3 linked regions of the Homo sapiens genome follow. The protein of the gene in region 3 interacts with the protein of the main gene of each other region in a pairwise test. Each region holds a gene or a part of one and is shown on either strand. Other genes may lie near its edges.

The links.
Region 1: the proteins of SEC13 (region 3) and NUP37 interact in binary tests that used the Homo sapiens proteins (3 or more experiments, as listed by UniProt).
Region 2: the proteins of SEC13 (region 3) and HAPLN2 interact in binary tests that used the Homo sapiens proteins (3 or more experiments, as listed by UniProt).

The regions. Positions count from the first base shown.
Region 1 is NC_000012.12:102,099,515-102,103,343, forward strand, and holds part of NUP37 (nucleoporin Nup37), read right to left. Parts: intron 1,591-3,829; coding exon 1,518-1,590; intron 1-1,517. UniProt on the Homo sapiens protein: Component of the Nup107-160 subcomplex of the nuclear pore complex (NPC). The Nup107-160 subcomplex is required for the assembly of a functional NPC.
Region 2 is NC_000001.11:156,617,456-156,621,055, reverse strand, and holds the start of HAPLN2 (hyaluronan and proteoglycan link protein 2 precursor), read right to left. Parts: upstream 1,642-3,600; 5' UTR 1,549-1,641; coding exon of another isoform or gene 1,521-1,548; intron 1,088-1,520; coding exon of another isoform or gene 898-1,087; intron 1-897. UniProt on the Homo sapiens protein: Mediates a firm binding of versican V2 to hyaluronic acid. May play a pivotal role in the formation of the hyaluronan-associated matrix in the central nervous system (CNS) which facilitates neuronal conduction and general structural stabilization.
Region 3 is NC_000003.12:10,300,284-10,304,112, forward strand, and holds the end of SEC13 (protein SEC13 homolog), read right to left. Parts: coding exon 3,743-3,829; intron 1,092-3,742; coding exon 978-1,091; 3' UTR 865-977; coding exon of another isoform or gene 823-864; 3' UTR 648-822; downstream 1-647. UniProt on the Homo sapiens protein: Functions as a component of the nuclear pore complex (NPC) and the COPII coat. At the endoplasmic reticulum, SEC13 is involved in the biogenesis of COPII-coated vesicles.

The sequences.
Region 1 (3,829 bases), on a different chromosome or scaffold from region 3:
TTATATAAAGCCTAAATAAAAATTAGAGCTAGAAAACTTTTTAGGGGTACCGAGGTAGGGTACCTCTAGGCTTTTTACATTATATCTGCTGTTCTGCATACTCACTACTTAACAAACACACACAGGATGGACTTCACCATCTAATGCCTTCATTTACATGCTCAATGTGACTGCTAGCAGTGAAGACAGCTAGTTGTTATAAGCCCATAGTTATCACCAACACAAAAAATCTCGACACAGAAGCAACAAATGAGAAGTTGCACAGTGGAGGACTGTGTGAGCAGATAAAGTTCAATCTGTCTAAATCTTCATAGTTGAAATCCTAAATAGGCCTGTCAGATAATTACTTTAATGGTTATCATTCTTTCTACCCTTCCTTCTTTCCAAAAACTCAAATTTGATCTCAGTTCTGAGGTTATTAAAGCAGTTCTATATAGTACTGCTCACTATGTAGAAATGTAATATTAAAAAAAAAACAAAAAACAAAAAGATTTGGGTCAAACATTCCTGAGCAACTTTAACAAACCCAGGTCCTCCAAATCATTCTCCAAAGCTTCTGTCACAGTCTACAAGACAAACTAAATTAACCGTAAATGTTTAATGTGTATTATAACTAGCATATTAACTTTGGATAGGTCAAAATTTTATGTGCCATTTATATACTTGGTTATTTCTGGTACAGCCTTAAATTAACCAATCCATACAGTACATTAAGCCCACTGTAAATAGCTTACAGCATAATTTTTACTATTTTCTAAATGATTGGAAAGGTTTGTAATTTATCTTTGTTTTATAACAATATTCATATTTTGGCTTATTAGAAAGCCAAGAAGGCAATACCATTCTTAAAAGAAAACATGATGCAATTTTGACCCAATCTGAGGGTTATTATTATAGTAATAGAAAACACACATACGGCGTTTACTATGTATCAACATTATTCTAAGCGTTTTATATGAATTTGCTCAGTCAATGCTCATAATCCTATAAGGCAGCTGCTATGATTACCCACATTTTACAGGTAAGGATATTAGCACAAAGAGATTAGGTTACTTAACCAAGGTCACACCACGACTAAGTAATAACACTGGAGTTTAAATGCAAGGAATCTGGCTTCTGTGTCTGTGCTCTTAACCGCTTTGGAATTCTGCCTGTGCTATGCTGTACTGATCATTTGTTCCCATGAAGTTCAACTCTTACTCTATGAATGGTCATGTCTATTATACTCCTACTATATCCAACTGTAAATTTCTAGTTTTCTTATTTGTTGTTCCTACCTAATATTTCAATTTAATAAGAGATATCAGATTTATAATCTGCAGTCATTAAGAACTTAGTTCTTAATAATATAGTAAGCTAGTTATTATAACCTATAGTAGAGTAAATGAGACTCTAAATTATATACTTTAATGATGACCATAAAAAGCCATTTTAAATTGGAATAAATCCAATTAAAAAAGCAAAAAACAAACACGTTTTAAAATAAGCTCTAAAGATTTATATGGTTGTCAACATACCTTATATTCATTTTTATCCTGAAGATCTGAAGTAAATAATCTAATTTTCATATCAGCAGCTGAAGTACAAAATCTGGAAGCAAAAAAACAAAAATATACCAATTTTTAGCCTTTGTAAGTGAAAGGTCTCCCCCTCCCCCCCATCCTTCCCTTCAGATCACTGAAGCTTTTATCATAACTCATAATCATGCTTTTTATGGAGGGGGAAAGAAGAATGTTGTGGCTCTACTGTAAAAAGTATTATACAGCCATCACAGAAAGTAGGAGTCATATTATTTTATTTTGAGAACACACAAAAGGTTAGTCTATTCTGGATGTGCTTCTTCAGTAATAAAAGTGTAGAATTTTACACTAAATCAGCACTTGAATTTAATTTTAAACGTTTTCTTAAAAGCATAAAAGGATGGATTTTAAAAAGTATCTTCATTTTAGCCAGGTCACCAAGACATATTAAAAATATTGTTATACATCTACCTTAGTCTTTGCCCTCTTCTGTTATCCATAATCCTTAGTTTTTTCTATTCCTCCAAATAAATCAGATGAAGTAAGATACTATTTTTATAACTATAAAAGCTGATAATATTTATACCTACTAAAAGCTGGAGTATTATTTATACTTTAAACATTTAAAACATGTTTTTCAGTAGTTAATCAATGGATTATTAAATTAAAAAACAAAACCTAAGCAGCAAACACTCCTTTTTTTTTCCTTTGAGACAGACTTGCTCTGTTGCCCAGGCTGGAGTGCAGTGGTATGATTTCATACCACTGCAGCCTCCACCTCCCAGGTTCAAACGATTCTCCTACCTCAGCCTCCCAAGTAGCTGGGATTACAGGCGCCCACCACCACACGTGGCTAATTTTTGTATTTTTAGTAGAGACAGGGTTTCACCACGTTGGCCAGGCTGGTCTCGAACTCCTGACCTCAGATGATCCGCCCATCTTGGCCTCCCAAAGTGCTGGGATTACAGGCATGAGCCACTGCGCCTGGCCAACAACTACTTTTTAAACTAGTTTATCTTTAATCCTAAATTTTCTAGATTCTCAGGATGTGAGACAATGGCTGAGAAAAAAATTTAAATTATATTTATATACTGAAAAACAAAGTTTATTTTCAATTCTTTGGTAGAAAGAGTATCATACACAAATCTAAATTTATTCTTTAGTTTGAGTACAGTGAGCCATTTTTTCTCAACTAAAGGCTCTTAATCCACAGACCCTGATGTGTTGGTAGACCTTTGCTACTACACCCCTTTCCAGTAATTTGTCAAGAGTTGTTAGAGAAAACAGATCAAAGCCACCAGGGAATGATTCTTTGTCCAAGGTCTTCTCAGAGGCAAAATTAAAGTTGTAGTGGAATAAAGCATGTCTTCTTTCAAGAAATGTCTGTCTACTCAGGTTCTTTGCCCATTTTAAAATATAACTGTTTTCTTGTGATTGAGTAATTTGAGTTCCCTACATATTGTTGATATTAGCCCCTTATCAAGATGTATGATTTGCAAATATTTTCTCACAATCTGTAGGTTGCATCTTCACTCTGTTGTTTCCTTTGCTGTGCAGCTCTTTAGTTTAATACAATTCCACTTGTCTAGTTTTGCTTTTGTTTCCTGTGCTTTTAGGGTCAGATCCAAAAAATTCACTGTTGTGGAGATTAATGTTGTGAAGCTTTTTCTGTTTTCTTCTAGCCATTTTACAGTTTAAGGTCTTAAGTTTAAGTCTTTAATCCAATTTCAGTTGATTCTGCATATGGAGTGAAATAACGGTTCAATTTCATTCTTCTGTGTGTAAATACAGTTTTGCAACATCATTCATTGAAGACACTGTCCTTTCTTCATTTTATGTTCTTGGCACCTTTGTAAATAATCGATTGACCATAAATGCATGAATTTATTTCTGGGCTCTCTATCTTATTCTATTGGTCAAGGTATCTCTTTTTATGTTAGTACCATGCTGTCTTGAATACCATAGCTTTTATTTTGAAATCAGGTAGTGTGATGCCTCCGGGTTTGTTCTTTTTTTTGCTCAAAATTGCTTTGGCTATCTGGGGTGTTTTATAATTTCATATAAATTTTTTAATTGATTTTTCTATTTCTGTGAAGAATGACATTGGAGTTTTGATAGATAGGCATTGCATTGAATCTGTGGATTGCTTTGAGGAGTAAGAACATTTTAACAATATTAATTCATCCAATCCATGAACACAGGATATCTTTCCAATTATTTGTGCCAAGTTCAATGTCTTTCATCAATGTTTTATCGTTTCTGTGTACAGATCTTTTACCAACTCAGTTAAATTTATTCCCAAGATATTT
Region 2 (3,600 bases), on a different chromosome or scaffold from region 3:
CTATTTCCTAATTGCATGACTATGCATAAGTTAATTATCATGCACAAGTTCCTTAACCTCTCTCTGCCTCAGTGTCCTCATCAGTGAAATGTGGGGAATAATAGCACACCTACCTCACTGAGTAGTTGTGAGGAATAAATAAATTGATATACGCAAAATGCTTGAAATAGTGTCTGGAATGTAATAAGTGCTGTCTATGTGTTAGCTGTTATCTCCAGTTCCCAGCATAGTTTCTGGTACATAGTAGGTGCTAAATAAGTGTGTATGGTTTAATGAACTTACATTAAGGATTCATGGGAAGATGGGATGGGGAATGGGGAGATGGAGGAAGCACCCTGAGAAGTTGCCAGAAATCTAAAGAATGGAGCTCCATCTTTCTGCAAATGAGGACCAAAGACCAGTTTGCAGTAGGAGAAACGGAGGTTATGCATAGAAAACTTCTCAGTGGTTAAAGGTGAAAGTATCTGGGATGCGAACATGAGCAAGAGAACCACTTCTTTATAGGAGAACTTGATAAGTAAGAATGATCGTGAGGACTGAGATTGACTGAGACCAACAATAATGATAGCTCAAATGAACACGTTTAAAATTGAATGTGCCTGACACTGCTCTAAGCACTTTACATGTATATTTTTATATTTACTCCTCCCAGCAATCCTGAGGCAGAAACAATTATAAATCCTACTGTACACATGCTGAAACCAAGGTGCACCTATTTTAGGAAATGAGGTCACACAGCTAGTAAGAGGAAGGGTTTGCTGGGATTTGAATACAGATCTGACAGTGAGGCTCAAGCGCTTAATCACTAATCTATATTTCTGCATTTCAAAACAGTGCACACACATGCTCTTCATACCTCTTACAGAAAATGAGAGTAGTCAGCAGCCCATTGCCTACCTGTTAGAAGCTGGTCTCTTCACAGAGACGGAGGGAGCAGTGCTTAGCAGCTTTTTGTCTTGCTTGAGGAAGAGGTTCTGGATGAAGGTTTGCCAGGCTCCTGGGAGTTCCAAGCACCTTAAAACCCTGGAACTTGAGCCCCTGTTCAACACAGTTGCTCCTTTTGCACCTTTGAGGAAAAGCTTCTGTCCTGTGCTCAAAGAAGAAGCCAAGGTGCCAAGAACGACCCCCACCCCCATCAGTCCACTAAGCCATGTTAAGAGACCTGTGTCCAGCCCTGTGACTATATCTGTGGAAATCACTATTCCGGGACCAGGGGAAGATGCTGGGGTTGGGATGAGGGCTGGGAACCCATGAAGGGGAGTGGAATAAAGGGAGCAACCCAGGAATGATGACCTGGAAGAGTGCAGAAAGTGAGGTGCTTCATTTTTTCTCGATGCCTTTGAACCAGAGAGGTGTAGATTGATCGGTGGATATGAAGGTGTTGGACTGATGGGGATGGGGATGAACTCTAAATGTGGCTCAAAGATCCATAACTGCCAAGCTCGAGCTGCCTCCCTTTCCATATGCGCCTCATCTAAGCAGCATCCCCATCTCCCCTCTCCCCACAACAGAGTACTCACCTCTGCCCTCTGGTGCCTGAGTGCGCATTGCCTTTGCAAACAGACTTTCAGGTGGGAACTATCCAGGACTTCCAGCTGCTTCAAGAAACCGGACCTCTTCTGTACAACCCCCTGTCTGTCTGTCTGTCTGTCCTTTCCTTCTCAGTCCCCACCCCATCGGAAGCACAATTTCCCATTGTCTCTGTCTTTTCCCCTATTGTTGAATAACAGGGCCCCTTTCTTTATTCTGTGGGTAATGGCAATGAAATGTCAACAGCTGGGGATGTGGGATGCAGGACCGGCTGGCACATACCACCGGAAAAGGGCCTGGGTGGGGGGCGGGCTCAGAACAGGAATTGACATCCCCAAGAAGAAGAGAATAGGGTGAGGGGCAGAGAACGGATGGTGAAAAGGTTGAAATGGAATCTCTCTCAACACTCCAAATTACAGGGCTCTAAAGAGATTTTGTCTGAGGCCAGGGGAAAGGCTGGGCTCCATGAGGGCAGAGGGAGTGGCTAGCATTGCAATAGGAGAGATGGAGATTAGACAGCAAGGAGGATTTTTCTGTCCCTGGGGAGGAACATGAGAATTTCTGAGGACAGAAGGACTTTGGAAACCTCTCCAAAAGAGAAGTTATCTTATTGGTTCCCTAATATTCTACCTCTTCCCTCAGCACAAATAGATAACCTTTTTAAAGTACTCAGAAGGGGATCCTTAATCTTCCTGGATGGAAATTCACTTTCTCTCAAGTCTTTTTTTTTTTTTTTTTTTTTTTTTTGAGACGGAGTCTCGCACTGTCGCTCAGGCTGGAGTGCGGTGGCACGATCTTGGCTCACTGCAAGCTCCGACTCCCGGGTTCATGCCATTCTTCTGCCTCAGCCTCCCAAGTAGCTGGGACTACAGGCACCCACCACCACACCCGGCTAATTTTTTGTATTTTAAGTAGAGACGGGGTTTCCCCGTGTTAACCAGGATGGTCTCGATCTCCTGACCTGGTGATCCGCCTGCCTCGGCCTCCCAAAGTGCTGGGATTACAGGCGTGAGCCACCGTGCCCGGCCTTTTTAAAATTTTTTTTTTAAGACAAGGCCTCTATCTGTTGCCCAAGTAGGAGTGCAGTGGCCCAATCATAGCTCACTGCAGCCTCGAACACCTGGGCTCAAGAGATCTTCCCCCTTAGCCTCGAAATTATCTAGGACTACAGGCGCGCACCACCACACCCGTCTAATTAACTTTTTTTTTTTTTTTTTTTTGAGACAGAGTCTGGCTCTGTCACCCAGGCTGGAGTGCAGTGGCGCAGTCTCGGCTCACTGCTACCTCTGCTCTGCCTCCCGGGTTCAAGCCATCCTCCTCTTTCCTCAGCCTTCAGAGCATCTGGGACTACAGACGTGCGCCACCACGCCAAGATAATTTTTGTATTTTTTTGTAGAGATGAGGTTTCATCATGTTGCCCAGGCTGGTCTTGAACTCCTGGGCTCAAGCAATCCGCCCACCTCAGCCTCCCCAAATGCTGGGATTACAGGCGTGAGCCACCATGCTGGGCCTAATTAAGTCCATTTTAAAACCTTTCCATTGAGGTATAATTTACATACAAAAAAGTCATAGAAATTATGTGTACAGCTAAATGAATTTTTACGTGTGTACATATATTGTACACAGGTAAAAACCCACCAGATCAAGACATAGAACATTTCCAACAATGCCGAATAGGCCCAATTGTTTTTGTTTTCTATTAATGCAGAGGGAGGACTCCCTCCACCTGCCCCTGTAAACAGCCATGTAGAAATGTTTTGAGCTTTAAGTTCCATTTTAGCCTTATTTTCTCTCTGCTGTAGCCCCATGGAAGTAGCTTTGCATTATTAAAACCATATAATTTCATGTTCTGTGAGTTAAAAAAAAAAAAAAAAAGAGGCTGGGCACTATGGCTCACACCTATAATCCCAACACTTTGGGAGGCCGAAGTGGGCGGATCACCTGAGGTCAGGAGTTCGAGACCAGCCTGGCCAACATGGTGAAACTCTGTCTCTACTAAAAATACAAAAATTAGCCAGGCATGGTGGTGTGCGCCTGTAATCCCAGCTCCTCGGGAGGCTTGAGGTGGGA
Region 3 (3,829 bases):
GAGCGCTTCCTCATCAGTGAACTGGGTACACCCACACGGGGTTCTCGTGTTGCTTAAATTAGCGAATGTGTGAAAGATCCAGTGTAGGGTCTGGCTCACCGCAGGCTCACTGATGGCTATGGCGATTGTCAGGGTCACAGGGCCTCCGCTGAAAGGTGATACCTGGTTCAGGGTCAGTTAGGTCTCCCATCATGGGGCCCTCCTTTTCCTGACAGGGTCAATAAACTAAATGAATCGTGCCCACTTTCTGGGCCAGCATCTTAACTATTGGTGTTTGGTTAATACCACGTTGCACCTGCGTGGCATTTTGTAGGTCACCAGATGCACTAGCGTGTTTGAATCTTGCAGCCATCCTGTAGGGCAGACTGTATTAGTCCCATTCTGCAGAACAGGATGTGTACCGAGAGGGTAAGTAGCAGACCCAGGGCTACAGTCCTTGTCACCAAAGGCTGAGTCCAGTGCTCTGTATGGTGCTTTCAGTATAAACTGAATCAGAGATGCTCATGCAGTGACAAGCCACCTTTGTGCGTGGGGTTAAGCCAGGCCATCACAGCCGTGGCCTTTGTGAATAGTTTGTTCTAGTGCGTGGACCGACAAGAGTCAAACTGAGCTGGTGGGGTGGGGTGGTTAGGATAACGCAGCAGGAATTATAAGCAATATGACTTTATTTAGTTCCTTTGGAAACAAAACCCCCCAAATAATGCCTGAACCCAAAGGTACATAAAAATGACCCAAAATAGATTTGAACATCACTTGTAGTTTCTTCCTCGTAACATGAGTGCTTTCAGCTGGACAGTAGATTACAAAGCATCTCCGATCACGTTAAGGCAGATGATCAATCTGTGGCTGCATCTGTAACTCCTCCTGGGAAAATAATCCTGTTGGAGTTGGGGGCTCTTCCCAGTTGTCTGGTTAGTTGGCCCAGGAAGGGGCAGTCCTGGAGCTGGCGGGTGGGGAGCCAGGCCCCACCTGTCTTGTCACTGCTCGTTCTGCTGGCCCTCTGTCACTGATGCTGATACGGAGCCCTGGCCCTTGTTGACATCACTGATGCACACCCACTGCCCATCAACTGACTCCTTCCACAGGGTCACCTGCGAGTCAGTGCACAAGCAGATTATCACGGGTCTGTGCCCTTCCCTCTGCTGTCCCCTAAATATGAGCCTCATCCTCATCAAGAACCACTGCCCAGAGGCTTGTGGGTGAACAGAGCATGTCCCTCCTCCACTGAAATCTCACCAAAATGAGAGTCCAGGAATAAAAACTCACAGAAAAAAAGGAGTAACAATAACAGCAGCTGTGGATGATGATGTCAACACAGGATACTGTTTTCAGCAAACTGTGACAGAGCTACAGCGAGAGGATATGGGGTGGCGGGGAGCAGGGTTCGCAAAGTGTGGTCCCCAGACCAGAGCAGAGCATCGGTCACCTGGGAGCTTGCTACAACTGCAGATTCTTGGGGCCTGGAACAACTGATTAGGAAGCTCTGGGGGTGGGGCTGGCAATCTGTTTTAACAGGTTTAACAACACTGCAGTTTGAAAACTACTGTGGTAGAGGAAGGTAACAGTTCAATATGTTGTTTCTACACTGAAGTAAACTGTATAAGAAATAGCTAAGAGCTGAAAAGGTTTGCCCCTGGAGAGAAAATTAGGAGGCTGCATTAAAAAAAATCAGTCTAGGTCGGGCATGGTGGCTCACGCCTGTAATCTCAGCACTTTGGGAGGCTGAGATGGGTGGATCACCTGAGGCCAGGAGTTCGCGACCAGCCTGAACTGGTGAAACCCCATCTCATCTCTACTAAAAATACACACAAAAAAACTAGCAGCCACCTGTAATCTCCCAGCTACTGGGGAGGCTGAGGCAGGAGAATCGCTTGAACCCAGGAGGCGGAGGTTGCAGTGAGCCGAGACTGCGCCACTGCACTCCAGCCTGGACGACAGAGCGAGACTCGATCTCAAAAAACAAAACAAAAAACAAAAACAATCTAAACCTATGTACATATATTAGTTTGATTAAAAATGAAAATAACGATTTTGATTTTAAGAACTCTTGCTTTAGGGACAAACTATTCACTCAACACACTGCAGAATGCTCTGGGATTGAAAACATACTAAGTCCTTTAGGTAAGGGTGCTATGGAGACAGCGAAAGGAAACAGGCTTGTAAAGAAGAGCAAGAAGCCTAAATGCACAGTGACGGGCCCCACAACACTGCGTGCACAGCCAGGCACTTGCTTACAGCCTTGTAAAAAAGTCACTGGGGGCCTGCTTGAGGCAATCTGGGTCCCTTGGTCTGCCCTGAGTGCCATCAACCTGGGTTCTGGTCCTGACTCTGGCACTCACTAGAAATATGGCTTTGAGAGGGGGCCTGCTAGATCTTTCTGGGACCACTGTAGATGAAAGGGACCCTCGGCCAGAAAAGCCGCCTGCAGAGGCTCTCAAGATCTGCACACCCATGTTCACAGCCACACTATTCGCAATAGCTAAGAGGTGGCAGCAGCCCAGGTGCCCTTTGGTGGAGGAATAAGTGTAGAAACAGGGTGTGGGCTGTCTATACAATGCAACACTACTTAGCTTTACAAAGGAAGGAATTCTGACACATGCTACGTACAGCATGGAGGAACCTTAAGGGCATACTGCTAGTGACATAGTCGCAAAAGGACAAATACTGTATGATTCCACTTAGATAGGTCGCTAGAGCAGTCACATTCACATAGACAGAAAGGAGAAGGGTGGCTGCCAGGGCTGGGGAGGGGCAATGGGGAAGGGAGTTATTTAATGGGTACAGAGTTTCAATTTTGCAGCTGAAAAGAGTTCTGGAGACCAGCTGCTTCTCTGCCTTGCCTGTGTTGGTTGTGCCGTGAGCCACACAAATGAAAGGTAAGACATGGAGCCAAAGTGGCCACTGGGAAACAGTAAAAGACCAACATAGGCAAGGGAGAGAAGCAGCAAGGGCTGGCAGGATCCAGACCAACTCGCACTTCAGGCGCAGAGCAGATGTGCCTGAAAACGCAGCACAGCCACTCCACGTGGAACTGACCCTGCGGCGTTAGAGATCCTCTGTCTTATAGGGGAATTCAGCTGGGCAGATGGCTATGGCTTGTTACTGCTTCCTTTCTGCGGGTAGCTTTTTTCCTTCTAATTGTAAAATACACGTCACATAAAATGACCTTGGCCACTTTTAACTGCACAGTCCAGTTGTGTGAAGTACATTTGGGTCCCTGAGCAGCTGGTCTCCAGAACTCTTTCAGCTGCAAAATGCAAACTCTTCCAGTGCACCCACTGTGTACCTGCCTCTTACCAGCATAACAAGTATTCATAAACTCTAAAGGTTTTTAAAAAGCCTTTTCAGTGTTATGGACAAAAAATATCCCCAATCTTCTTCTGTTTATGGGTTCTTATACACTTGCCTTTTTGGCACAGCTAACTGAACATCACCATGAGGTGACCAAATGCTTAGTAGGGTGATGGGCCTGACTGGCTCTGCCACCTCATAGTTTTGGGACCCCCATGCAAGTCAAATCGCCTCTGTCAGCTTCTTTCCTCATCTGTGAAAGGGGGACGTGTTAATACTACCTCAGGGGCTGTGACATTAATGATGTAACTAAGAGGCACACTCAAAACGCAGTCCTGGCTAAGGCTCCTGCCCAGCCTGCAGTCAGATGGGAATGTCAAGTGCCCTCTCTAGTGGGCGGGGTGAAGACCAACAGGCTGTGTCCACCATGCCACGGGGAATGGGTATGTACCTTATTGTCTCCACCAGAGACAGCCAGGATGTTGGCTGTGATGGACCAGCTCACATGCCACACCACATCGTTGAACTTGTGCAACAA